Homo sapiens: one gene and its partners. The protein of the gene in region 1 purifies or fractionates together with the protein of each later gene. This does not show direct contact. Each region holds a gene or a part of one and is shown on either strand. Other genes may lie near its edges. The genes, in order: DNAJB8, C9orf40, FKBP5, WDR81, SCGB2A1, LCN1 and ESS2.

What was found.
Region 2: the proteins of DNAJB8 (region 1) and C9orf40 purify together in Homo sapiens (affinity purification with mass spectrometry; 3 studies listed by BioGRID and IntAct, with this or other methods). This does not show direct contact.
Region 3: the proteins of DNAJB8 (region 1) and FKBP5 purify together in Homo sapiens (affinity purification with mass spectrometry, with the first as the bait; one large-scale study listed by BioGRID). This does not show direct contact.
Region 4: the proteins of DNAJB8 (region 1) and WDR81 purify together in Homo sapiens (co-immunoprecipitation; one large-scale study listed by IntAct). This does not show direct contact.
Region 5: the proteins of DNAJB8 (region 1) and SCGB2A1 purify together in Homo sapiens (affinity purification with mass spectrometry; 3 studies listed by BioGRID and IntAct, with this or other methods). This does not show direct contact.
Region 6: the proteins of DNAJB8 (region 1) and LCN1 purify together in Homo sapiens (affinity purification with mass spectrometry; 2 studies listed by BioGRID and IntAct, with this or other methods). This does not show direct contact.
Region 7: the proteins of DNAJB8 (region 1) and ESS2 purify together in Homo sapiens (affinity purification with mass spectrometry; 3 studies listed by BioGRID and IntAct, with this or other methods). This does not show direct contact.

Annotation. Positions count from the first base shown.
Region 1 is NC_000003.12:128,464,091-128,468,145, forward strand, and holds the start of DNAJB8 (dnaJ homolog subfamily B member 8), read right to left. Parts: upstream 2,801-4,055; 5' UTR 2,524-2,800; intron 1,347-2,523; 5' UTR 1,186-1,346; intron 24-1,185; exon of another isoform or gene 21-23; 5' UTR 1-20. UniProt on the Homo sapiens protein: Efficient suppressor of aggregation and toxicity of disease-associated polyglutamine proteins.
Region 2 is NC_000009.12:74,946,083-74,949,912, reverse strand, and holds the end of C9orf40 (uncharacterized protein C9orf40), read left to right. Parts: intron 1-1,706; coding exon 1,707-1,865; 3' UTR 1,866-3,330; downstream 3,331-3,830.
Region 3 is NC_000006.12:35,577,416-35,580,915, forward strand, and holds part of FKBP5 (peptidyl-prolyl cis-trans isomerase FKBP5), read right to left. Parts: exon of another isoform or gene 3,142-3,500; intron 2,807-3,141; coding exon 2,621-2,806; intron 1-2,620. UniProt on the Homo sapiens protein: Immunophilin protein with PPIase and co-chaperone activities. Component of unligated steroid receptors heterocomplexes through interaction with heat-shock protein 90 (HSP90).
Region 4 is NC_000017.11:1,731,204-1,734,703, reverse strand, and holds part of WDR81 (WD repeat-containing protein 81), read right to left. Parts: coding exon 3,446-3,500; intron 2,380-3,445; coding exon 2,214-2,379; intron 2,039-2,213; coding exon 1,873-2,038; intron 1,178-1,872; coding exon 488-1,177; coding exon of another isoform or gene 474-487; intron 1-473. UniProt on the Homo sapiens protein: Functions as a negative regulator of the PI3 kinase/PI3K activity associated with endosomal membranes via BECN1, a core subunit of the PI3K complex.
Region 5 is NC_000011.10:62,207,408-62,211,472, reverse strand, and holds the start of SCGB2A1 (mammaglobin-B precursor), read right to left. Parts: upstream 2,801-4,065; 5' UTR 2,742-2,800; coding exon 2,687-2,741; intron 1,061-2,686; coding exon 873-1,060; intron 1-872. UniProt on the Homo sapiens protein: May bind androgens and other steroids, may also bind estramustine, a chemotherapeutic agent used for prostate cancer. May be under transcriptional regulation of steroid hormones.
Region 6 is NC_000009.12:135,520,207-135,524,239, reverse strand, and holds the start of LCN1 (lipocalin-1 isoform 1 precursor), read right to left. Parts: upstream 2,801-4,033; 5' UTR 2,743-2,800; coding exon 2,653-2,742; intron 2,194-2,652; coding exon 2,063-2,193; intron 1,009-2,062; coding exon 938-1,008; intron 361-937; coding exon 250-360; exon of another isoform or gene 1-249. UniProt on the Homo sapiens protein: Could play a role in taste reception. Could be necessary for the concentration and delivery of sapid molecules in the gustatory system.
Region 7 is NC_000022.11:19,134,652-19,138,151, forward strand, and holds part of ESS2 (splicing factor ESS-2 homolog), read right to left. Parts: intron 2,782-3,500; coding exon 2,672-2,781; intron 2,296-2,671; exon of another isoform or gene 1,688-2,295; intron 1,609-1,687; exon of another isoform or gene 1,558-1,608; intron 525-1,557; coding exon 409-524; intron 1-408. UniProt on the Homo sapiens protein: May be involved in pre-mRNA splicing.

The DNA of each region.
Region 1 (4,055 bases):
AAGAAGTGTTCCACTCAATTCTGGTAAGAAAAATAGGAATTGATGATAAATATTGATTACTGACTGTAGTGGGTTGAATGGTGGCCCCCAAAAAGATATGTTCCTATCCTAATCCTTGGAACCTCTGAATGTGAGCTTATTTGGAAAAAGGATCTTTTCGGATGTAATTAAATTAAGGATGTCGAGATGAGATCATCCTGGATTATCTGAGTGGGCCCTAAATCCAGTGACACATGTCCGTATAGGAGATGGACACTGACGCAGCTGGAAGCTGGGGGCCAGGAGGGTTCTCCCTGCAGCCTCCAGAGGGAGTGCGGCCCCACTAACACCTCGATTTCAGACCTCTGGCCTCCAGAACTGGGGGAAGAGATTTCTTTTGTATTGAGCTACCCAGTTTGTAATAATTTGTAACAGCCCTAGAAAACGAATCAGGTGAGTGAGGTAACCAAATATTCTTAGGCATTTATATTCCTTTAATTCTTGTTCTGGTGTTGGATCATATATAGAAACAGCAATTCACAATACTGATTAATATCTGTTCCTACCTTCACCTCACCCCACTCCAATTAAGATCAAAACCATGCTAAACCACCTACTAACCACACCAATAAAGAGCCTAGATGTTTGGGTCACCAAGTCTTAACTAAAGATAGCCTTCCTGCCTGCCTTCTTTCCTTCCTCCCTTCCTCCCTCCCTCCTTCCCTCCTTCTTTCCCTTCCCTTCCCTTCCGTTCCCTGCCTTCCTTCCCTCCTCCCTCCCTCCCTTCCCCCTCCTTCCTTCATTTCCTCCTTCCTTCCTTCCTTCCTTCCTCCCTTTCTCCTTCCTTCCTTCTTTCTTTCCTTCCTCCCTCCCCTTCCCCCTTCTCCCTTCCCTCCCTTCTTCACTCCTGGCTTCTTTCCTTCCTCCTTCCTTCCTTCATTCCTCCCTTCTTCCTCCTCTTCCTTTTTCTAGTCTTCATCCCTTTCTATTATCCTCCCTCTCTCTCTTTTCTTTCAGTGCTCATGGGTGCTAGGTTTCAGGCTCCTAGCAGGGGACAGTGTGTGTTCTAACCAATCCCAAATGCCAGGAGGAATGGAGACAGACTGTAGAGACACTTTGTAAACCCAGCCTCCAGTGACCATCGCTGTCCCTCCATGCAGCTTATCAAAAGCACGACTCGCACCCCCATGCTGGGCATCCACCCACCTACACCTGCTGACACATGTGGCTTAGCAGAGGAGTTGAAGAGCAGAACTTCTCCACTGGATGTAGCTACAGATGAACCTGATTCTTTATCTCTGTGGCTGGATTTTTGTCACTATGTCTCGGTTAGCAGTTAGCACCTGCTGTCCCTTGCAGGCTTGTTCCTGGGGCGGGAGAAAGATGCTTGCCCTGCACAGTTCTCCATGATGGCGGTGGCAGTGGGAGAGGCACTGCTGTTGACTGTGTTGCTGGTGGGGAGAGGCACGGTGGGTGTCCATGGAGATGGATAAGGTGTCATTATATAGTAGAGGTGACCATGGGAGCAGTGTTGATGTGGAGGTAATGGTCATGGTGGGTGTGAGGGGGAGAGTAATTATGGGTGATGGTGGAGTTGATCATGATGATGGTGATGCTGGTGGTGACAGCAGCAAGGCTTGTGCTTGAGAGTAATTGATGATGGTAGTGGTGGTGGTGATGGTCATGCCAGAGGAGATGGTAACAGCGAGCCTTTGTTGTGGTTGGCAGTGATGGTGCAGGTATGATGAGGAGGTGATGGGAATGGCTCCTAGTGAGCCATTGGTGTGGTTGGCAGTGGTGACAGTAATGGTGATGATGAAGGTGAAGGTGGTGGAGGTAGCAGAGGTTGTATCTTGTTCGGCTATACCACAGTGACAGCTTCCACCTCTCAGTGGCTCACGACAAACATCTAGTTCCCCCCACTTCACTCACTGGTGCCTACAGGCAGCTGCCAGGGCCCCACCTCCCATAGCTTCTCACTGTGGGTCCCAGGCTGGAGAATCAGCTCTGACCTGCACACCCCTCTCTCATGACAGTGCCACTCAGAGACAGCAGGAACTTGGGCTGCCTCTGAAAGCTTCTGTTGGGCCATGATGTGTGGCAGTCTTGCTGCATCCCATGGTCAAGGCCAGTATCCATGGGGCAAAGAATGTTTCCTTCAGGAAGGTTCTGCAAATCTCAGGGCAATAGGAAGAGAGGCCTGAGATTCCCATGGGGAAGAGGGAGTGAGCAGTTCTCCAACATATGCCAGATGCTCAAGATGGGACTGACAGCGGGGCTGGTAACGATGGCTCTGCTGGGAGCAGTGTTGGTGCTGCTGGTGCCGGGGACACCCGTGGTGGTGATGGGATAGGAGGCAGGAATTGTGCTATTAATGGAGGATGGTGGTGAGGGTGGTTGTGGAAGAGGCAATGGTAGAGGGGGGTGCCGAGGGGTGAGAAGGACACAGTGGTGGACATGCTGGTGTGAGTGCCGATGGCGATGGTGATGGCACTGAGGTGTGGGGCTCTGTATTTTCTGTTGCTAACTTGGCATTACACCAACCTCTTCCATGGTCTCCTTGCATCCTGGAGAAATCTGAGGGATTTTCCAGAATCCCATCACCGGTATAATTCCAGACTAGAGCCTGCCAATACAAGGGATTTGGAGAGTGGAAAAGAGAGGCCGTTGCAGGCAGGTGACAATGGTGAGCTTTGCAACAGCTCGGGGCAATCTTCTGCGAAGACCCTGCTTCTGAGCCACAGGCTGAGGCATGGATGGGGAGCTTCCTGGAATACCGTGAGCTCCTCAGCAGCTCCCAGGCAAGCTCTAGAGAGCCGCTCACCTGGGAGCTGCAGGTGAGCATCTCGATTCCTTGTTCCCTGACCGCTGGTCCCAGACTGTTCAGGGTGCAGCGTGTAGTAAATGTCCTCCTCCTTGGTACACATTTGAGGGCTGTGTACTGTGAGGGTGATGGCGGCTCAGATGAAGGTGGTGGTTGTGATGGAGTTGGGTGTGAGGATAGCAGAGAGAAAGCAGATGGTGACATCAGGAAGGCATTGGAGGGGCAGTGGTGGTGGCAGTGATGATGGTGGCAGTCTAATTAGAGGCAGTGGTGGGTCTGGCTGAGGCAGACCCGGTGGTGGTGATGGTGGTGGTAGTAGAGGGGGCAATGACGGTGGTGATGGCAAAGGCGGTGTGAGTGGTTGATACTGGTGGCAGAGCTGATAAGGTGATGTCACAGATGGGATGGTGGGTGGAGATGGAGGTGGAGGAAGTGTGGTGACAGTGATGTGGTGGTGACACAATGCTGACACGGGTGGAGAGCACCGTGGTGACGGTGACAGAGATGATAGTGATAGTGGGGCTGGTGGCAGTGGTAGAGGAGATGGGGATGGGACGCTGGGGTGTTGATGGTGATGGTGACACTGCTGAGGGTGTTGGTGGCCTGACATTGTAAAGGTGAAGCCTGAAGTTTCCATGACGATGGAATCAGGACAGTGGAGGAGGGGTGGTGAAAACAATGTTAAGAGACAAAGGACCTAGTATGATGAGGCATCCAAGAATCCTGTGGCCGCCTCCCCGTCCTGGCCCTCCCTGCCTTGTTGGAGACCCTGGCTCTGGTCTGCGTTGTACTCCCAGGGGAAATTTCTTCCAGCCACTGCCCTGCTCCAACCCTTGTTCCTGGGATGGGTCTGTGGGAGTCAGCCAGGATGGAGACAGGGCTGGAGACCCCCTCACTGCCGCCCATTCAGGGCTGTCTTAGGGCACACAGAACAGACCACTCGGTAGGACTTACGGGAACAGGTGTGTCACCTGGGAGCAGGTCCCACACCTCACCATCAAGGGCATCCTGAGATGGAGGCCCCTGTGGGGAGCTCCCCATGAAGGGAGCTGTGGACCGTGGAGCCGGGCAGTGTGCAGAGGAGTTTCCCTTCTGCAAAGGGTTCAGGCTAGTCTCCTTCCACGCCAGTTTTTGGGGAGCCAGTGGGGAGCATCAGGGGCTCTGAGGCCTCCATAGGGCCTGCTGGAGGGACAGGGACACACAGGCATGAGCGCACACTTAGGCCCCACACGCTCCACCGTCAATTCTGTCA
Region 2 (3,830 bases), on another chromosome or scaffold:
TGGGATTACAGGCGTGAGCCACTGTCAGGCCCTCTTTTGAGGAAAGCCCAGTAACACTCCTATTCCTTCTTTTTGTTAGATTTGTTCTGGAGGCGCTTCTCTTTTACAATCATGCTCTCTCCAGCTTCTGTTTCTCCTTCCTGCCTCCAAAGACACAGGCTTTTTGTTTTAAGGATTTTATACCTGATTACCAAGGGAAAATTGAATATAACAAAAAGAAGTAAACAGTTCAATACAGTAAATGCCTGGTTTCTTTTGTGCTCAGAATAGGGCTTAAGTCCCAGCCCTCACCCTTGGGACTTCATTTAGGAAATACTACCTCAAATACCTTTTTTCTACATTGAGAATACAATCTAGGCAGGATAATGTTACGTCATTTCTGTCCCGGAACTTCAGGGTATTTCCTGTTTCAGATGTTTTTTGACTACAGAAATAAAATCAGGTATTCATTAAATATTCATGTATTTTTTTCATGTTAGTGTCACTATGTAGATTCACTGCTCTGTCAGTGTTAACTGTTAGTTTCTTGTTTATTTGTTTGTTTTTCATAAATTGAGATGGAGTCTTGCTTTGTTGCCAGGGCTGGTCTCAAACTCTGGGGCTCAAGCGATCCTTCTGCCTCCCAAAGTGCTGGGATTACAGGTGTAATCATGCCCAGCCAACTGTTAGATATTCTTAACAGAAAGTAAGCAGAAATGCTCTAAGGAGACAGTGATTAATGATTCATAGGCTTATTGGGATATAATACCTAGCAATATTGAGCAATTACTATGCCAAGCCTGAATTTTTACAACAGTCCTCCATTTTATCAATAAGGTCAAGATCAGAGTTAGTGGGCGGTGGAGTTATCTTGCAAACCCAGGTCTGTCTGGTGGCAAAGTTTGTGTGCCCTTAGTCACTATGTTTTACTAACATAATTAAAAGACCTTTTTTTGGTCCATGTTTATAAGTAGATAATTTGTACAGTAGATTTTCCAAAATATTAAAGTGAAATTTTTCTTAATATCTTTTGACTTATTGTGTGTTTATCCCAATATTAAGAAATTCCCCCAAAACTTAATTCTTTAAGGCTCAGCATAGAAGACAGTGAACTTCCTAATGAGACTTTCTTACAGACCTGTGCTGTCCAGCACAGTAGCCACTAGGTCATGTGGCTACTGAGCATTGATTTTTTTTTTATCTTTAATAAAATGATCAGTTTAACATTTTCTTGCTATTCGTCATGTTTATAACCTAATACTTTTTGGAAGATTTCAAAATATTTTGGCCTATGTAAAGTAAATCTCCTAAAATACCAGACCTTAAGAACAAGACCAAAAGTAAGTTATAAGGAGTGTGTCTGTGTTTGTATTTTTAAAATAAATTCTTCTTTTCCTTCTTGAAAGATAAAAAATTTTAAGACTTTTTAGATAATTTTCTTTAGGTGAAAAATGGGAGAAAAACTGTGGAAAGAGATGCTCTTGGAGGAAATTCCTTTAAATTTAACAAATACTTTCACAAATTGTAAATATTAAAATGCACAGATTTCATCGAGTACATGAAGTACTTAGATGAGACAAAATTTAAAATGTATATTTGTTAAAAATACAAAATAGAAGATTACAAAATCTTATATGAGTTTGCCTTTAAAACAAATTTGTTTTCTGAAAAAAACTTAATTTTTTCTAAGCTATTGATGCTCTTTGATCTCTCTTTTTTCTCTAAAGCACAATGAAGAATTTTGGCAGTATAATACCTTCCAGTACTGGAGGAATCCTTTGCCTCCTATTGATCTGGCAGACATTGAAGATTTAAGTGAAGACACCCTGACAGAAGCAACACTTCAGGGCAGGAATGAAGGGGCTGAGGTTGACATGGAGTCCTGATGTAAGGAGCCGAAGCAGTGGGATTGGCTGATTTGAGGAGATGTCTCTAAGTGAATTCTCGTATTCTTAAGGGAAAAGTTATTTTCCATACTTGAAGTTATATTTCCAAACCTGAGAAATGAAGAAAGATTGTTCTGACATTAAATACCTACAGTTACTACTGAACCTCTTAATAAGGATTTGTCAAGGATAGAGTACAGTTGTAGGGGAAGTATTTTATGTATGCATTCTTAGAGCAAAAAGTTTTGTTTAAATTCTAGAATTGAAGGTACTGATCTTATAAAAAGAAATTCTAGCAGTTTTAGAAATAGGTGGGAAAAACTCAAATATTCCTCCTATCTGCACCAAAAAGTTTATTTGTGGTATATAAAATGAATATTGTTTTATAATAACTTGTTAATAAAGTACTTTCTAATACATTCTATTGACTCTGTTAGTTGAACAAATAGCTGACTTGAACATCTATGCAAACTTAAGATGGGCGGGATTGTTGTAAAAGCTATTGTTTTAAAAGAGCTTTCTAAATGTAAAGTAGTGATAATTTCAATTTGGGTAGCGTGTTTGCAAAGCTTCCAATATTTGATGTTGGTTAAGCTCTACTATGGGCAACTGAAGATGGATAAAGAAAAATGAAAACTGAATCGGTGCCTGCTTCCCCCTGTTTTCCCAGGATTAGAGGAAAAAATTTATTGTATAATCAGCTTCTTGGTTTTGAATTGCTTCGAGGCATGGTTTTATTCCTTATTACTTTAGACCTGTAGTTTTCAACACTGACAGCACTTTAAAAATCTTTGCCTGGGCCTCACTCTTGAGAGATTCTCATTTAATAGTTCTGAGGTGGGTCTTGGATATAACTATTTTTTTAAACACCTGTCCTGTTTCCCTCCATTCCTCTCATGTGCAGACAGGGTTGAGAACCAGTAGACTAATGGTCGTTTTTCCTGTTTAAAGGAGATAACTAATTTGAGCTGAAGCAATGCTTCTTAATTAGCTTTGTTTTTGTTTTGCTCTGTTGGTGGCTTTGTTACAACTGAATTATTGTGTTATTACTATTTCATTGTTAAAGAAATAAAGTAAGCAATTTGTGATGTGAGTATCAGTGATTAAGTTAACTAACTTTTGTACTGCATCCAGAATGTTGGTTTTGCAATTGAGTAACTGGTTCTTGCTTGCATTTTTTGTTGTTGATGACATTAGATCCAAAATTCAAGACAAATGGTAAATGCCATTGAGAGGGAAAGAGAAAAACTTGATTTTTTTTGTGTAATGAAGGATTTAAGAATGGGTTGACATTAATAAGAATGCTTTAGAACAGAAGACAAACTGTATTGCATTGTGGTCAGACATGGTTCAAAGTCTTGTACTGCCACTTCCTACCTATGTATCTTTAAGCCAGTTATTTTTCATCTCCAAGCCTCAAATTTCTCACCTGTAAAATGAGAAATAATAAATAGTATCTACCTCAGAGAGACTGTTTATTGTCAAGCAATGTTATAAGTACTTTACTTGCATCATCTTGTTTAGTTCTCATAATAACCTTAAGGTAGGTTAAAAAAAATCATTAGAATAAACATGCTGCCTATAGTTAAAGTTTTAACTGCCTCTAGAAGTTTCAGGATAGAAATTGGAATTGAAACTTTCAGCTTATGATATTTTCAACTTACGATGGGTTTATCAGGACATAACCCCATGGTTAGTTAAATGTACTAAATTTATATCACTTTCACACTGTGGTAAAGCTGAAAAATCCTGTCAAACCATCAAGTCAGGGGCAGTCTATATATAGAAAACAGAAAGAGTTAAAATAATTCCGTCCTTTAAAAAAGTTGTTTACTAAGTAAACTTGAGGTAACAGCAAAATTTCATTGTGGATAAATTGAGGTAAAATGTGGGTTTTTAAATGTGTTATAACCCTTCACCCCAATTCCCTAATGTAACATCTTAAATTACCACAGTACACTTATG
Region 3 (3,500 bases), on another chromosome or scaffold:
CTAGAAAGATCCCAAGGAGATTTGAGAGGGGGCTCTTGAGAAGTTCATTTTAAAGTTCATTGGAACAAATAAGTGCCCAAGAATGGCTGAAAAAATTTGGGAAAAAAGAAAAAAATAAGAGGCACTTGTCTTACCAGAGAAAAAGACAAACTTTAAAACTACTGAAATTAAGACAGTTTGGTTACTAGCATGTGGACAAACAGCTCAGTGGAACAGAACGAATCATTCAGAAACAGTCATGTGTCTGCATATAAAAACATTTGAAAATGACAAAGGTGGTAATGTGAATCAGTGGAGAGTTAACTTTAAAATAAACGGGGCCAGGATGGCAGCTATCCACATAGAAAATAAGAGTTAAGGCCGGGTGCAGTGGTTCACACCCTAATCCCAGCACTTTGGGAGGCTGAGGCAGGTGATCACCTGAGGTGAGGAGTTCGAGACCAGCCTGGCCAACATGGCGAAATCCTGTCTCTACTGAAAATACAAAAATTAGCTGGGCATGGTGGCAGGCGCCTGTAATCCCAGCTACTTGGGAGGCTGAGGCAGGAGAATTGCTTGAACCAGGGAGGTGGAGGTTGGAGTGGGCTGAGATCGTGCCACTGCACTCCAGGCTGGGTGACAGAGTGAGACTCTTGTCTCCAAAAAAAAAAAAAAAAAAAAGTTCTTACCTCATATTGTAAGCACAAAAGTAAATTCTAGATCAACCATATTTACATATTAAAAAAAACCATAAAATGTTTCAATTATTTTTTATTTTAAAATATGTAAAATATAATCATTATTTTTTTGAGGCAGGGTCTCACTCTGTCGCCCAGGCTGGAGGGCAGTGGCTCAATCACAGCTCACTGCAGCCTCTATCTCCTGGGCTCAGGCAATCCTCTCGCCTCAGCCTCCGAAAGTCCTGGGGTTACAGGTCACAGGTGTAAACCACTGTGCCTGGCTTCAGTTATTTTTATAATCTTGGTGTGGGGAAGTCTTTTCTAACTAGAAAGGAGACGACAAATCTGACTACATAAACATTAAAACCTTCTTTAAAGAGAAAGATATAATCAACAAAGCTAAAAGAAAATTGCTGGGTTGTGGTGGCTCACACCTGTAATCCCAGCACTTTGGGAAGCTGAGGTGGCAAATCACCTGAGGTCAGGAATTGGAAACCAGCCGGGCCAACATGGTGAAACCCTGTCTCTACTAAAAATACAAAAATTAGCCTGGTGTGGTGGTCGGCACCTGTGGTCTAAGCTACTTGGGAGGCTGAGGCAGGAGAATCGCTTGAACTCGGGAGGTGGAGGTTAGAGTGAGCCAAGATTGTGCCATTGCACTCCAGACTGGGTAACAGAGAAAGACTCCATCTCCAAAAAAAAAAAAAAGAGGAAAATAAGGAGAACAGGCTTCCTATTGCCAAAGATAGGGTTAATAGTGATGCTATATGACTGCTTCTGTCAATAGAAGACAGAAAAATAATGTAGTCAAGGCTGTGCTGGGTGTGGTACCTCACAACTTTAATCCCAGCTCTTTGGAAGACCCCCATCTCTACAAAAGTAAATTTAAAAATTAGCAGGGTGTGGTGGCATGCACTTGTAGTCCCAGCTACTCAGGAGGCTGAGGTGGGAGGATAGCTTGGGCCCCAGAGTTTGAGGCTGTAGTACATTATGTTCATGTGTATTAATAGCCACCGCACCCCAGCCTGGGCAAAATAGCAACAACTTGTCTCTAAAACAAACAAAACACACACACGCGCGCGCGCACACACTCTCTCTCTCTCTCTCTCCGCTCTGTATGAAAAAAACGAAAAAATACATATAAAATTAATAACTGGTCTTGGGAGAGAGGATGCGATAGGAAACACTGATCCACAAAATTCAAAAATAATCTCACAAAGAATGTACAAAATAGTTGCCTTGCTTTTCTTATCCTTTTATGTCTACCTTTAAGATACATCCAATGATTAGTTTTTACTTTTACCCACAGTATAATATATACTGTTCACTCTGAGACCAGATACCTAAAATAGTATCGGCTGGTGTATAAATATATCAGAACGATACATAACGATACAGATGATAAACCACTGTTATAGAGTACTGTGTGTAAGCACTCAAAAGACCAAAGATAGTATTAATAAGACAAATGTAAAAATAAAAAGGCTGCTGATGCTCTGTGGACCTTTCATATTATTTATGCATATCAGTGAATAAATGATTATAATAAAAATTGACCTATATATATGCTTTATATGAACAGTTGCAGTCTGTTAAAGTCCAGAAAAGCTTAAGTTAAATCTTCTCTTATTAAACTGAACCTGAGGAGTTATACGTCTACTCTGATATAAATACTACAGTTATAAGGAAGGTCGTGGATAAAAATTATTTAATTTTAATCAAAACTTTTCTTCAGAATGCATTATGATAAACAGTCTAGGTATCATAAAAGTCTGACTGTAATAAAAATCTTGCTGAATTTCCCAATTCATACTGAGAAACAAATAATCCCAAACATTCAAATAAATAAAAAAAAGCAAAATGAAAAATCCTGCAACCTTTGGCTGAGAGGAAGCAAAAGACAGAGATGGAGAAAAGATCTGGAGTATCTAAAGTCCATCTCACAGGAGACACGATGTTACCTTGTCACAGCATTCAACAGCTTTGGTGTATTCTCTAAGCTTCAGGTAGCACATGGCCAGGTTCAGAAAGGCAGCAAGGAGAAATGATTCAGAAGCTTTCGATTCCTTTTCTGATAAACCATATTCCATCTCTAACCAGGACACTATCTTCCCATACTGAATCACCGCCTGCATGTATTTGCCTCCCTAGGATAAAAAAGCGTCATTACTTGTACTCAGCTCTTGAGGGGGTACAAAAGAAAAGCAAATCCTCAAAGTGAAGCAACCCCTCCAGCAAACCCTGGTACAGCTGGTTTCTTTCTTTCCTTCTGGAGATGGCTCTCCAGGTACCTTTCCCACTCCCTTGGAGGCCTCGATGGCCTGTGGGCTGGTTTGGGGCAGTGCCTGAGCACTGCCTAGTGCTGCTCTGCAGCATTTCCATCCGTCCCTTCAGCAGGTGTAGTACAGCAAGGCTTCTGGGCTATGTTCTTTGGTGCTAATATTCTTTAGTCTTTTTTTTTTTTTTTTTTTTTTTTTTTTTTGAGACACAGTCTCGCACTGTCTCCAGGGCTGGAGTGCAATGGCGCCATCTCAGCTCACTGCAACCTCCGCCTCCCGGGTTCCAGCGATTCTCCTGCCTCAGCCTCCCGAGTAGCTGGGGACTACAGGTGGCCGCCACCAAGCCCAGCTATTTTTTTTTGTATTTTTAGTAGAGACAGCGTTTCACTATGTTGGCCAGGCTGGTCTTGAACTCCTGACCTTGTGATCCGCCTGCCTTGGCCTCCCAAAGTGCTGGGATTACAGGCATGAGCCACCACACCTGGCCTATTCTTTAGTCTTTCAAAAGGATTGTGAGCAGTTTTAGACTATGCCACTAAAAAAATGAAAAGGAAGTTACTTT
Region 4 (3,500 bases), on another chromosome or scaffold:
GAGTTTGAGAGATTCTCCTGCCTCAGCCTCCTGTGTAGTTGGGAGTACAGGCACCCGCCACCACGCCCGGCTAATTTTTGTATTTTTAGTAGAGACGGGGTTTCACCATGTTAGCCAGGATGATCTCGATCTCCTGACCTCGTGATCCACCCGCCTCAGCCTCCCAAAGTGCTGGGATTACAGGCGTGAGCCACTGCGCCCGGCTGTGTGTTATCTTCTACGCCAGTTTTTCTGATTCTCAGTTTATAGATGGGAAAGGAGACGCTTCCAGCAGCAGGAACTTGCTCAAGGTCACTCAGCAAGTAAGCCGGTGGAGCCAATTCAGACTCAAGTCTAACAGATTCGAAGCCCTAACTGTTCTCCTAGGCGGCCTCGCTGGGTCTCCCCAAACTCCGCAGCATTACAGCCCCACCCTCGGGCCCCCTTCCTGGAGGCCTGGTGGGGCGCAGGAGCAGGAAGAGAACAGGCCTCACCTGGGCCCGCTCACCTGTGAAGGGGTCCCAGACGTGCACAGCCCCGTCACAGCTCACCACGTGCTGCGGGGCCTCAAGCTGGCCCACGAAGAAGACGCTCTTGCGGTGCTGGGTGTAGACGAGGCGTGGGGCCGTCTCGCTGGTCCCGTCGCCGTAGTTGTACAGCGGCCAGAGGCGCACGGTACGATCCTTGCTGCCGCTCAGGAAGAAGTCCTCGCTGCTTAGGGGTGCCACGCACTTGACGGCCCCCGAGTGGCCCGGGAAGCTCTGCAGGCGGATCTGGTGGAAGTGAAAGTGGGCATCCTGCTGGCTCACGCCGATCTCGTACTGCCAGTACGCCAGCCAGTTTCCGCTCAGCCCGTGCACGCTCCGCGGCAGCTCCTGCTTCAGGGCGTTGTCGTCGCTCCCGCTGCCCAGGCCCCCGCCACCCACCCCCGAGATGGGGCCCAGTGGTCCGGGGTTCTCAGGCCGAGAGTCATTGGGGATCTGAATGCGGTTCCCCACCAGGACGCTCCCAAAGGTCCCTGAGTGGCCGTCATCCTGAGGGCAGCCCCCACCATGGGGGTCCCACTCGGGCCCGGTGCCGGGCATGGTGGGCTCCACGCTGGCAGGGTTGCGACTGCTGGGGCTGATGCTCTCCAAGTACAGCGCCGCCAGCTCCCCAACCAGCTCGTGGTTGGGGATGATTTTCCGGATGATGTCACCTGGATAGGAGTGGGAGAGGTCCTGAGACAGGGAAGATGGCAGGCGGCTGCTATCACCCATCCAAGGACTCGGGAGCCACAGAAGATGGGGCAGGAACTGGCTCTGCAACTCTGGGCAAGTAACTCTGTCTCTGAGCCTCAGTTTCCTCCTCAGTGAAATGTGGATTCATTCCGTTGTGATGTACACATGAGCATCTTCTATATGTGCCGTGCCGTGCTGGGCACTAGGAATAGAATATGGAACAAGACAGGTGGTGCCCTGGCCTCCCAAGCTTAGATTTCAGTGGCAGGATGATAACAGGTGTAACCACAAGGCTGTCTGTCCTCTCCAGGGAGATGACACGCTGAAACGATCAGCACAGCACCGTGCAGGGCCCAGAGGGGAAGCTTCGTAAACAGGAGGCCACTCCTTCCCTCTCGCCAGCTCCTGCGGACCGCCAGTCCACCTCCCTGACTCTCCTGCCTTCCCCAGGGACACTACAGGCCAGCTTCTGGGCCTCTCTTGCTGGCTACTGCTCAGTCCTTGTTTGTGTGTCACCTTGGGGGTAGGGGTCTGAGGCCAAATCCCTTTGCTCTCACCCATCCTGCTGGCTCTTAGAACCCACTGCTGACTCTGGGGCAAGGGCAGAGAATGGGGCCTCCCAAGGGAGGAGACAGCCACGAAGACTGTGATGGGGAACGTGATGGGGCAGTACCCAACAGGCAGGAGAAGGGCACGTAGATTGTGTATGCCATCTCCAGGGTGAACACCTTCTGCAGCTCGTCCAGCAGGGCGGGGTCCACGGGCCGCTGCTGCCCATCAGAGAAGACCACCTGTGGCAGCTGGCCCTCACCACGGCCCGCAGGGTCCAGCTTCAGATCCTATGAGCAAGACACCCAGGGGGTCAGCCGGGTCCACAGCTCCCACCCTGGCCCACCCTGGTCCTCGCCACGGCCCGCGGAGTCCAGCTTCAGATCCTATGAGCAAGATGCCCAGGGGGTCACCCAGGTCCACAGCCCCCGCCCCAGCCCGCCCTGGCCCAGCAGATCTGCCCACCTGTTGCCGAAGCTCATGCAGCTGAGAGAAGACCTGGAAAAAGGTGGCCACGGGCTCGCTCAGGTGCTGCTGGACCATCTCCTGTCCAATGCGCAGGCAGATGAGGGCGATGAGGCTGATGGTTTTCACACACAGGATGGTCCGAGCCTGGGCCCCACTTGGGAACCTGGAAACAGAGCTCATGAGCTCCAGCCCGCCGTTCTGCAGGACTTGACCAGAATCTAGCAAAATCTTTATTTATTTTTATTTTTATTGAGATGGAGTCTTGCTCTGTCATCCAGGCTGGAGTGCAGTGGTGCGATCTCGGCTCACTGCAACCTCTGCCTCCCGGGTTCAAGCGATTCTCCTGCCTCAGTCTCCCGAGTAGCTGGGACTACAGGCATGAGCCACCATACCCGGCTAATTTTTTTTGTATTTTTAGTAGAGACAGGGTTTTGCCATATTGGCCAGGCTGGTCTCGAACTCCTGACCTCAAGCGATCCACCCACCTTGGCCTCCCAAAGTGCTGGGATTACAGGCATGAGCCACAGCACCCAGCATATATATATACTTTTTTTTTTTTTTGAGACAGAGTCTTGCTCTGTCGCCTAGGCTGCAGTACAATGGCGTGATCTCAGCTCACTGCAACCTCCGCTTCCTGGGTTCAAGCAATTCTCCCGCCTCAGCCTCCTGAGAACCTGGGATTGCAGCCTCCCGAGAACCTGGGATTGCAGGCACCTGCTGCCATGCCCAGCGAAGATTTTGTATTTTTAGTGGAGACGGGGTTTCACCATGTTGGCCAGGTGGGTCTCAAACTCCTGACCTCGTGATCCACCCGCCTTGGCCCCCCAAAGTGCTGGGATTACAGGGGTGAGACACCACGCTCGGCCTTTATATATATTTTTAGAGAGGGGGTCTCATTTTGTTGCCCAGGCTGGTCTTGAACTCCTGGGCTCAAGCAATCTTCCCGCCTCAGCCTCTCAAAGTGCTGGGATTACAGGCATGAGCCACCGTGCCCGGACATATCAAAAGCTTTAAATGAAAGAGCTCCAAGACCAACTGGTCCAAACCAGATGAGGAAACTGAGGCACAGGAAAAGGGTGTGGTTTGCTCAGGGTCACACAGCCGGGATCAAAACCAGGACTCTTGACACCCAGTCCAGTGTTACGTCCTCTCCCCTGAGCTTCCCACCCCCTCCTGGGCAGCCCCTCCGCTGGGCCGGTCCCCCTACATCAGCTGGGGCAGAGGCCTACCCCGTGACGAGGGAGGTGAGGAAGCTGAGCACGGGCAGCAGGACCTCATGGCTGA
Region 5 (4,065 bases), on another chromosome or scaffold:
AACGAAGATCATGCCACTGCACTCCAGCCTGGGCAACAGAGTGAAACTCCATCTCAAAAAAATTTTTTTCTTTATTTTAGAAAATGCAGAATTTGCACAAATTGTATTTTCTGAGCTAGATAAAAAAAAATAAGAATGTTTTGAATATTTGTTTTTGTGAAAGTAGGAAATTTCTTAGTAGATTGCTCCTACAAGTGTGTGATCTCTTGAGAACCAGATATTTTCTCTTGATAAAAATGTGCATGTTCTGGCTGGGTGCGGGGGCTCAGACCTGTAATCTCAGAACTCTGGGAGGCCAAGGGAGGCAGATCACTTGAGGTTAGGAGTTTGAGACCAGCCTGGCCAACATGGTGAAACTCCTTCTCTAGTTAAAATACAAAAATTAGCCCGGCGTGGTGGCGCACACCTGTAATCCCAACTACTCGGGAGGTGGAGGCAGGCAAATCTCTTGAACCCGGGAGGTGGAGGTTGCAGTGAGCCGAGATTCACGCCACTACACTCCAGCCTGAGTGACAGAGCGAAACTCCGTCTCAAAAAAAAAAAAAAAAATGCCGATGCCTGTCCCCGTGTGTCTGTGTGTGTCTATACTTGTGTGCTTATGTGTGTCTGTGTCTGTGTGAGAAGGGACTGGTGAGGTCAGAGGTAGACGGGTGATCTCTAAGGCTTTCTTTTCTCCTTTTTGCCTTTTCCATTTATCACTCCCTAAAGATTCTCAATGTGAAGTGGCAAAGCAGCCTGGAGACAAAGTTTAATGAATTGATATATAAAGAAAGTTTGTTCACCAGTTGCTTGGCATTCTTGGTGCCAAATTTAGAGCCCGCTGGTTCTGATCAGTGATTTTCAAAGGGTACATAAGAAGAAACCCAAATTACCATCATCAGTCCAAAGTTTTTCAGAGTTCTATGTGACTGGTTGAGGAAACACTGCTTGAATTTCCCCATAGCCTCTGCAGCGGCATCACTGTCTATGAACTCTTGAAGAAGCTCTTTGTATTCAGGTATAGATATGTCGGAATTGATGGTCTTTTCAACCATGTCCTCCAGGAGTTTGCAGCCAGAATCTGGAAAAAAAAAAAAAAAAAAAAAAGACACAAGAACATGGGCCATTACTAGAGGTGTGATTCATTCTACAGATGAATTGGGAAGCTGGCTATCTTCGTACCTCCAGGGACAGACCGAGGTTCAGAAAGATTTTGGTGCAGTATGCAGAGTTCTCAATTCTGGGAGTGTAAACTCAGGCTCTGCAAATTCTCTCTGACCTTCCAAACCCAGAGAAGCCCAACCCTGTGTATTCTTGGTGAAGAGGACCCTCGAGAAATGAGGTGTTCTGACTGGGGGGACATAGCAAACACTACTTGGACTTTCTTGGTTCAAAGTCATGCAATGCTTCCCTGTTATCATGCCCAGCATCAGGTAGGGTTTCCAAGGATTTCAGATGAATGGGTCTAGGACATTGTCCATTAGTTCTGTTGACTCTACTGCAATAAAAGGGAATGTGTGGCCAGGTATGGTGGCTCACGCCTGTAATCCCAGCACTTAGGGAGGCCAAGGCAGGCGAATTGCTTGAGCTCAGGAGTTTAAGACCAGCCTGGACAACACAGGGAGACCTCATCTCTACAAAAAATTTAAAAATTAGCCAGGCATAGTGGTGTCCACCTGTAGTCCCAGCTACTCGGGAGGCTGAGGCAGGAGCATTACTTGAGCCTTCGAGGAAGAGGTTGCAGTGAGCTGAGACTGTGCCATTGCACACCAGTCCCAGTCCCAGCCTGGGTGACAGAGCAAGACCCTGTCTCAAACACACACACACACACACACACACACACACACACACACACACATGAATGTGAAATAGAGCTTGTTCATGAGGGGATCTGAGGTCACCTCCCACTGTAAGGGAGAGGAACGAGCTCAGGACGTGGCTTCATGTGAGCTGGTTGTGCTCTGGACTTTGTGATTTTCCAGTTAGTTGACTGTGAGCTTGTCACCCTTCTACACATCTGCACCTACCTTGGATGCCAATACGGTAGGGTTTGGAATCCACCTTTGTGAACTGCACAAGGCAGGCTACCTATGGAAATATTAGCGCTGATTCCAGCAGCCGGGGCTTTTTCCTCCCACTGAATCTTTAGTGCTGGAAGGAGACTCCAGGGGTTGTGAGTTCTCACCTGTCTGCCTTGAGCCTGAAGCAACTGGGAGGGTAAGGGCATCCCAGAAGGACCCAGATCAACTCTGAGAACACAGAGTGAGCCACACAGGGTGAGAGACACTGGGTCACACTCTGCAGCCTGGGCCTTCTGTCCTGGGAGGTTTCCTATTTCGTTCCATATTCAAGGAGACCCATGATTATTTCCTGATTTCTAGGTGTAGATGCCATCTCTCCCTTGCCCCACTGAAATAGTTCATTTCAATATTTAATCCTGAGACTCATCCTGGTTTCTATGGTCACCGTGACCATGGTGAGACGCTGAGTGCCATGATACACTGTGTGCAGCTCCAATGCAGGGGACAGCCCATGAGGACACTGCATGCTTGATTGTCAGGAACTCATGGGGATCCTAAGGCCTATCGCACCCAGGCCCTTCACACTGGGGCTCGTCTGTGCTGGGGATTAGAGGTTGGGAGTTCTTCTACAGGGGCCCAGGTGACAATTCCTAGCCCAGAAGCAGCCCTCTCTGCCCAGAACTCACCTGCATAGCAGTGCAGGAGGAGGGCCGCCAGCATGAGGACCATCAGCAGCTTCATGGCGAGGCGGCTGCTGTCTGTGTTCAGTCGTGCGTGGCAGGGATCAAGGAAGTTGCTGTGGAGGTGAGTACCCAGCCCTGCTCTATTTATTCCCCAGGGAGGCACCTTAGTCCCTCCCAGGAATGAGGCAATGTGTCAACCTGGCATGGGACCAGGACACAATAGTGTACACCAATGGGAACACAGCCAGCCTGTGCTCTGTTTGTAGAAACCAAGAAGGCAGTAATATTTGGATCCCTGACAATCTGGGGACTACAATAATGATACATGGCTTTTAGTAAAATGGATGTGACAGTGTTTTCCAAAATATAAAGCAAAACCCAGTGGCGTGATCTTGTGGTCTCAACAATGTTGTTATTATTGTAGTTTTCTTCTAGTCCTCCTTCCCTTCTTCCTCCTCCTCCTTCTATTCTTTTTCTTCTATTCCTCTTGGTCTCCTCCTCTTCTCGTTATTCTTCAAGGTACAAACAGTTTCATAACTTGTGTATCTGCCGGTCCTGGAATCATCAAATATTTGGGCTATGTGCAATACCTGCATCTTCCTATGGGAGGCAGACCTTCCTAATCCATAGACATTTCTTTTTCAGAAAAGCGGGTTTTTTTGTTTTTGTTTTTTGGGGTTTTGTTGCTGTTGTTGTTGTTGTTTTGAGACAGAGTCTCACTCTATTGCCCAGGCTGGAGTGCAGTGGTGCGATCTTGGCTCACTGCAGCCTCCGCCTCCCGGGTTCCAGAAATTCTCCTGCCTCAGCCTCCTGGGTAGCTGGGATTACAGGCATGCGCCAGGACACCTGGCTAATTTTTGTATTTTTAGTAGAGACAGGGTTTCACCATTTTGGCCAGGCTGGTCTCGAACTTCTGACCTCAGGAGATCCACCTCACTCAGCCTCCCAAAGTGCTGGGATTACAGGCGTGAGCCACCATGCCCAGCCCCGAAAAGTGCTTTAAGTTTTGGGGAAAACATTAATATCTAACCTCTACTGAAAGCTTCTTGTTATTCTTGTTAAGAATTACAACACTAAGTTAATTCAACTTTACAAATTTATTTTACAATATATTTATAATTTAATTTGTGCTTAGTTCTTTGTTAGCCTTTTACGGTTTTCTATCCACTGACTGAGAGGATGCTGTGAGTGAGTGGAGTAACTGACTGCTTGGGCAGGCAGTGCTAGGCAGTGGGTGGCAATGGGGTTGGGTGATGATGAGATTTAGGTGATAAGATTTGGGCAGGTGTGGGTGTGGATCCTGGAGGCCACACGTACTCATGCTGTGTCTTTGGGCAAATTACAATGCTGGTCCCTCTGGGCTTCCTTTCTGTCTTTGTGAA
Region 6 (4,033 bases), on another chromosome or scaffold:
CTTTGAACCCCTGTGCCTGCAGCCGTGGCTCCTTCCTGCCTCTGCTGCAGATACCGAGGCCGGGGCATCCCAAATCCTGAACTCCAGGGGTGGGAATTGAGGCCTTTATCAGGAAAACTCATCCTAAGAAAACTGCAGTGGGTTCCTGGGTCCCAGTGGCTTCTCCCATGGGGAAGAGGGTGCAGGAGGCCGAGGGAGGAGGGAGGGCAGGTGGAGGCATGGGTTGCAGGGTGAGGGTGCGGGACCCACCCACGAGCTTCACCCCTCGGACCGGCTTCCCGTGCAGCTCGCCCTCACAGTAAAAGATGTAGTGGTCCTTCACGTGCGACCTGATGATGTATGCCACGTGCTTGCCCCCGTCTGCAGAAAGACAGCAGCACATTCCTGAATTAGCCACCAGGGACTTCAGAGAGGATCCCGGGACAGCGTGCGTTGCCAGGCCCAGCAAGCCCCGCAGCTCCTGCACCCTCCCAGCCTCCCAGAGCTCCCTGACCCAGGTTCCCCACCAGGCCTGAGCCCCAGGCCATGGGACCCCCACTTCCCAGGAACCTGATGTACCCAAGAGGCGGCCACATCCCAAACCAGTGAGTCACGGGGGGTTCCTCCGGGTATGAGGTCTGCGGAGGTGGGAGTTGGGGTACAGCCCCCCGCAGCCAAATACGACTCTGCTCCTGGCCCTGCCAGAGCCACAGCCAGGGCTACAGGGCAAGCCCAGAGGGTCCGCCCCGGGACAAACCTGCCACACCTGGTGTTTGGGGTCAGGTGTTCAAGTCTCTAATGCAAATTGACCAGTGGGAGAAGAGAGTGGGCTTTTAGTGGAGTCAGAAGGCAGCAAAAGGCTTCCCAGGCCAAAAGGCCACCCCAAAAAGGCACTGGCTGCCCCCGCACATCCAGCGTGTGTTCAAGCTCAGGCTCTGGCTCAGGCCCCGGGACTCACCGGCCGTGTATTTTCCCGGCTCGTCAGTTTTCTCCAGGACGGCCTTCACCTCCTGGCACCGGCCACTTATCCTGGAAAACAGAAGCCCCCTGGCAAAGCGGCCCTGGCCTGTGCCTCCCCCGGCCCTGGAGCAACCATGCTGCAATGCCCTGCAAATGTGGCCCCGAGTCTGCCACAGGCCCATGGAGGAGGGTGCTTCTCTGCATCTCAGACCCAGGCACCAGCGGCCCCTCCGGGTCCCATGCGGCAGTTCCCGGGGTCTCCCGAGATGGCCAGGAGCTCTGCACCGCTCCTCCTGGTGGCTGCCTTCCCAAACCCCCCGCCCCCAACACATTTCCTGCCAGAGGCACCCAGGCTGCCTGGTTTGCAGGCAGCGTCTGTGGCGTGGGCCTGAGCCTCATCCCGCCAGCTGCATTCTTCCTTTTAGAGACATTCAGGCACAAGCCCCATATCCATCATCATCTGGCCCAGAGAGGGAAAGGTTCAGTGAGGGGCTTTGGGGGAAAAAAAAATCGGGGTCATTGCCAGGGTCAGTGACTTCCTGAGATTCAGCCCCCAGGACCGGAGCACAGGCACTGCATGCCACTCAGGAGGGAGCCATGCGGGTGAAATCACACAGGTGGGAAGTCACAGATGTGAGCCACGCGGGTGGAAGCAGCCCAGGTGAGAGCCGCACAGGTGAGCGCTACACAGGGATTTCAAGGGGGTCTTCTCCATGGTGTCTTCTCCTATGCCCCCTCTTGGTCATTCTGCAAGCCCCATCCCTGCACTTCTCCAAAGCAGAAATTTACTGCCAGGACTGGCTCTGACTCTGGTCGGGGGTAAACACCTTTTCCCAAAGGGGCCTGCACGTCACCAGACATTCCCTAGTCGGAGGAGGAAGTGGGCGGTACCCAGGGCTGCCACTGGTAGCCCACAGGGTCTGATCCGGGGCCTCTGCCCCCTCAGGGCCCCTCCAGCCGAGGCACCTCAGTGGCACAGTTTGCCCTCAAGCATTGCAGGAGGGGCCGAGAGAGGCCTCCCAGCAGGTCTGCCCACCTCCCCAGCACCAGAGCTCTCCTGGGTGGGGAAAGGGAAGGCCCTAGACCAGGTTGCAGGCTGCCCGGCCGGCTGGCAGACACTCACAGCATGGTGACCTTGGCTTCCAGGTTGCCCCCTTCCAGGGTCGTGAGGGTCATGGGTGTCACCGATTCCAGATTCATCTCAGGGAACTCCCTGTCCACCGTCATGGCCTTCAGATACCACGTCCCTGACACCTGGAGAAGGCCCCTCTCTATCAGGCTCAGGCCGACTGCTCCAGAGCCTCCCCCTTCCCTGGCCTGCAGCCCCTAGACTCTACCGCACCCCGAGGGCTGGAAACGGGGAACGTTCCCCAATCTAACCCACCCAGAAAACACCCAGCACCCTCGCCAGGCCCACTTGAAGGTGGCTCCAGCCCCCACAAGCCAGCCAGGACCACAGGAGCCCTCATCCCCAGGGAAGAAGTGAAGTCAGCCAGACCCCCACCCTCCCAGCCCTGCCCACTCTGCACCCCTGCGCCACCTACCCTGCCAGCCCAGACCCCTGCTGCCCCATCCCACCATTCCCTCAGGGCAGGGCTTGAATGCCCAACCCAAAAACGAGGGTCTCCTTGGATGGAGGAGGCATGGGGTCTCCATCCAGTCTCAGCCTCGCCCCTTGCCCCCTCCAGCCCAGCCTTCCCATCCGGGCCTCACATCCTGAATCTCCTCGTCTGAGGCCAGGAGGTGGTGGGCCTGCAGGGCAGCAATGAGGCCAAGGCTGACGGCCAGGAGCAGGGGCTTCATCTCCGGAGTCTGAGTCCACGGCCGCCTGACAGGTCGCTTGCTGGGGCTGGGAGAGGCTGTACCAGTCCTCCCACAGCCGCCCTTTATACCGCTGGGCTCAGGGTCCCCCAGGGACCTGGCACAGGAGACTGACCAATCCCTTCCTGGATGTAAACCACTGCCAGTTCTGCAATGGAGCAGATAACCTGCCATTATTGTTGGAGGCTGGTGAATAACAGCTTGTTAATCCCAGAGGATCACTTGGACAGGACCAGGTCCAGAGGAGCAGATTTGCAGATTTCACCTGAAGGGAAACTGAAGGGAGTGAAGGGTGTGCAGGCCTCCTGGGGACGTGTGCAGCCGTAACAGATGCCCCCCAGCCATCCCACACTTGCTGACGTGCACACTGTCAAGGGGGTTTGGGGTTGGAGTCCGAGGGCCGTGGGCTTGGGGCTCAGCTGAGCTTCCTGCATCTCTGGGCAGGTTACTTGGCCTCAGATTCATCATGGAAAAAAAGGGACCCTCCTGTGTGAACACGATCCCGTGTGCATTTAAAGACGGTGTCCACTGTCCTGAGCAAGGTGTGCAGTAACGACCCTCTCTGCTCCACACACAGAGCAGCAATAGGTCAGACAGACAGAAGACCAAGACAGGTGTGTGTGTGTGTATGCATGTGTGTACATATATACATGCACAAACGCACACACACTCACATAAAACAAGGAATGGAGGAGAAGCACAGGCTGGTGATGGGGCAGAGGCAGGGGCCTGTCAGCTCCAAGTCCCAAGGCAGGCAGAGAGGGCCTAGGTCCGGCTCCTGGGAGTGATGGGAGGGGCTTCCCTGACTCCAGAAAGAAGGCTGAGAAACCCTCCTTGACACATCCCAGGGCTGTAACTTCGTATAACTTAGTGGAGCACTGTGGGCATAGGAAGGCAAGAGGACATCAACACAGCCTCAAGGGCAGAAGCTGAGACAAGCCGTCCTTGGAAAGGATGACTTTATCTGTGACATGCTCTGCATCACTGCAGAGCAGAAGCCTGGGACCCGGGATGGGAGCAGAGGCTACAAAACACTGCTAGACAGAGGACAGTGACAACAAGATGGCAGAGAAAGGCAGAAATGCAGAGACACAATATCCTCACCTTGAAATAAGCTAGAAAGGCCAGGTTCCAAATTACCCAAGGAAACACCACACTAAGAAAGGCAGGCTAAAAATGAGCAATTGGTACAGGAACTTACACCAGCCAAGGAAAGTCTGACACACACTTTAAAACTGCAGGAGTATGATCAAGATGCCTAGTGATTTAAAAA
Region 7 (3,500 bases), on another chromosome or scaffold:
CGCTCAGGTCAAACCTGAGGTCAAACAGCAGCACCGCCCTTGGCTGTGGGGGCTGGGGTGCACCCCCAGGCCTCTGAGAGTTGGAGTCCCCACCCCTCTCCAAGGGGAACGATGACTCTCTCCACAGGGCTGATGAAAGCTCCCAGCAGGACCACACGCCTAAAGATGCCTCTTAGGGACGGGTCAAAGAGGACGTGGAGGAAAGAGAAGATGGAGGGGGCCTCTCATCCTGTCCATGTGCGGCCATGCTCTGGATAGAGGAGCTGCCACAGTACCCACTGCAGAACCCCGCGGACCTGCCCTGGACTCTGCCGCGTGGGCCATGCCTCCACACGGTCAGGGCAGGGGCCGAACAGGAGCAGGCCAGAGCCACCCTCGCACTTCCCCACCAGCCAGGCGGCCCCTCACCTGGCCAGATTCTCCGTCACTCTCCGCAAGGCTTCCTGCTTCTTGGCCCGGTTCTTGGCAGCGGCCTCGTTGGCCATCTTCAGACCCAGCCGCTCCCTGCGGCCTGGCTCCAGGATCTACAAGGTAGCAGGTGTGTGGGTAGCTGCGCCAGGCCTGCCACACGCCAGGCAGCCCCTCACACAGAAAGCCACTGTGGTGGGTGCCAGCCTCTCTTTGTTGCCTACAAAACCCCCACAACCCATCACCTCCCACTAAAAGCCCCTGGAAAGCCCCAAACCCCACCTGACCTGCCCAAGGCGCAGCACTCCTCACCTGTCTTCGTGTTCCTCCCAAAACCATGACCTCTGACAATCTCTCAGGAAAAAGCAGTCTGTTTTAGTGTTTCCCTGATTATCAGAGTGAACATCTCTGTCTTTATCGGCGCTCTGTATTTCGGGCGCTTCCCCGTGTGCCTGTGGCCTATTTTGCTCTCAAGGGGCTCATTTTCCTTTTCTGCTGCTGTTACTCAGAAGACCCTTGCCAAGACCTTGTGTCAAGTCAACTGTGCTACGCTGTGCACATGTTTTTTCACTCATTTACATTTGTTTCATTTATAACATTTTCTGCTGTATTTGTTATTTTCATTTGTGATTTCTTCCTTTGCTTTTATGTTTAGAAAGTCCCTCCTAACTTAAGATTAGACTACAGGCTGGGAGTGGTGGCTCACACCTGGAACCTCAGCACTTTGGGAGGCCAAGGTGGGAGGATCACTTGAGCTCAGGCATTGGAGACCAGCCTGAGCAAAATGACAAGACCTCATTTCTACACACACACACACAAAATTAGCTGGGCATGGTGGTGTATGCTGTTAGTCCCAGCTACACAGGAGGCTGAGGCTGGAAGGTCATTTGAGCCCAGGAGCTCAATGTTACAATCAGCTATGATTGCACCACTGTTCTCCAGCCTGGGCAACAGAGTGAAACCCTATCTGTTAAAAAAAAAAAAAAAAAAAAAAAAGAGGCGAGGCACAGTGGCTCACGCCTGTAATCCCAGCACTTTGGGAGGCTGAGGTGGGTGGATCACGAGGTCAGGAGTTCGAAACCAGTCTGGCCAAGGAGTTCGAGACCAGTCTGGCCAACATGGTGAAACCCCATCTCTACTAAAAATACAAAAATAAGCCGGGCGTGGTGGCACGCGCCTGTAGTCCCAGTTACTTGGGAGGTTGAGGCAGGAGAATCACTTGAACCCAAAAATCAAACTAAATATTCGCCACTATTTTCTAGTCCCAGTTACTTGGGAGGTTGAGGCAGGAGAATCACTTGAACCCAAAAATCAAACTAAATATTCGCCACTATTTTCTTCTGGTTGTTTTATGGTTATTGTTTTTACATGTAACCTTTTCACCTTTCCACAATGTATGCTGCTACACATCCTGAGGACCCAGCTCCCTTCATTTCTAAATACTCTGCTATTCAGTGCAATCTGAGTTGCCATCTTTATCGGGCCCCAAATTCTGACTTGGATCATGGTTTGTTTCAGAATTTATCTGTTTACTGTTGGCCTGGAGACTCGGGAAGCAGTGGCAGGCATACCTCAGAAGCACCTCAGCCCTTGCCTTGCGCTCTCACATTGGACAGCACGGCATCCTCTTCATTATCCCTCTCGCACGTTTGCCTTGGTTATCCTTGTGTCCCAGACAATTTAGAACCAAGGTAACCAGAACCTCTCCCCATGTTTTGTCTGGACATGGGTTACCTGTACTAAGTATTCTGGGGAAAGGCCCGCAGTGGTATGGGGAGGCCTGTTGTATCTGACCCAGCCCACGAAGAGCCTCCCCTGGTCTGTGCCGGGCCTCACACACTCCACCCTGACCACTCCTACAACACCAGGCTTGAGCCGTGTAATCCAGCGTGTCCCAATCGTGTTCTGTAACCAGGGGCCTTCTCTACAAGCACACAGCCTCGTCCTATGGCCCTCAGGCCTGCAGAGCTCCTCACGTGTCTGTGACCATCCTGCCTCATTCATGAACAGCACCCGGCCTCCAGGATCCAGAGGGCCCAAGCCACTCCCTGCCTTGGTGTCTCAGCCCTTACACCCCCAAATCCCTCTGTGACAGGTCCACCCACCCACACCTGCCTTCAGCACCCTGGCATTCAGAAAAGCCAGCACTCTGCCCGTCAGCAGCTGGGGGCCGATCCCAGTGCTCAGTCCTGAGCCACAGGCACTCAGGGCTCCAGAGGTGTCCACCCCGGTCGCACACAGTTCCCCCATCACCACAACCCACCTTAAAAGCTGGGCCGGGTGTCCTGTCCACGTAGGGCGTTTCCGACCCTTCAACTCTCAAGGGTGTGTTCTCAACCTCCCCCCAGGTCATCATCGGGGACTCGTTCACACCTGCAGACAAAGAGCCCAAAACCACCTCAGGCCAGAGGACTCCCCACCACCCTCCCCTCCAGTCACAGCTTGTTCACCCAATGTGCATCCCAGCTAATACGAAGGCAGGCAGCTAGCCCTCTCTCCTTCCCCAGGACTCTGGAACCCTGGCACCTCCATCCTCCGAAAGGGAAATGCCAAGCTCCCAGCAGGCCCGAGGCAGGCTCAAGGCCCTACAGCCATGTGCTTAGCCTACAAGCCTCTGGGAGGTCTCCCCCAGCCACGCAGGAGGAGACACTCAGGCCTTCCAGGGCTCCCAAACCTCCTAGAACCCCAGGCAAACCTGTGGTGCCTTCACATGCCCTGGCGTGTGACACAGCACCAGCACCCAAGAGCACAGAGGCCAGAGTGCAGAGGGACACCCACGCATGCCACAAGACCACCTGAGTTTCACCTCCACTGAGGTGCTGGGCCTCCCTCCCTGCAGTGCTAGGTAGACTTAGACTCATAAGCACTGTGCACACACCCCCACCCACTGACATCACAGTAAGGACCAGGACAGGACACGTCATCCCAGGATGTCTCAGGCCAGGTCTGCCTGAGAGTCCAGCCCACCCACGGCCCCAAGCAGCCTGGACACCTGGCCTCTAGGGCCTTGTACAGACAGGAGACCAGGTCCCTGAGTTACACAAGGTGTGGGGCAGGCCAGGTAGAGGCCAGGAGTGGCCAGGGCCGACTGA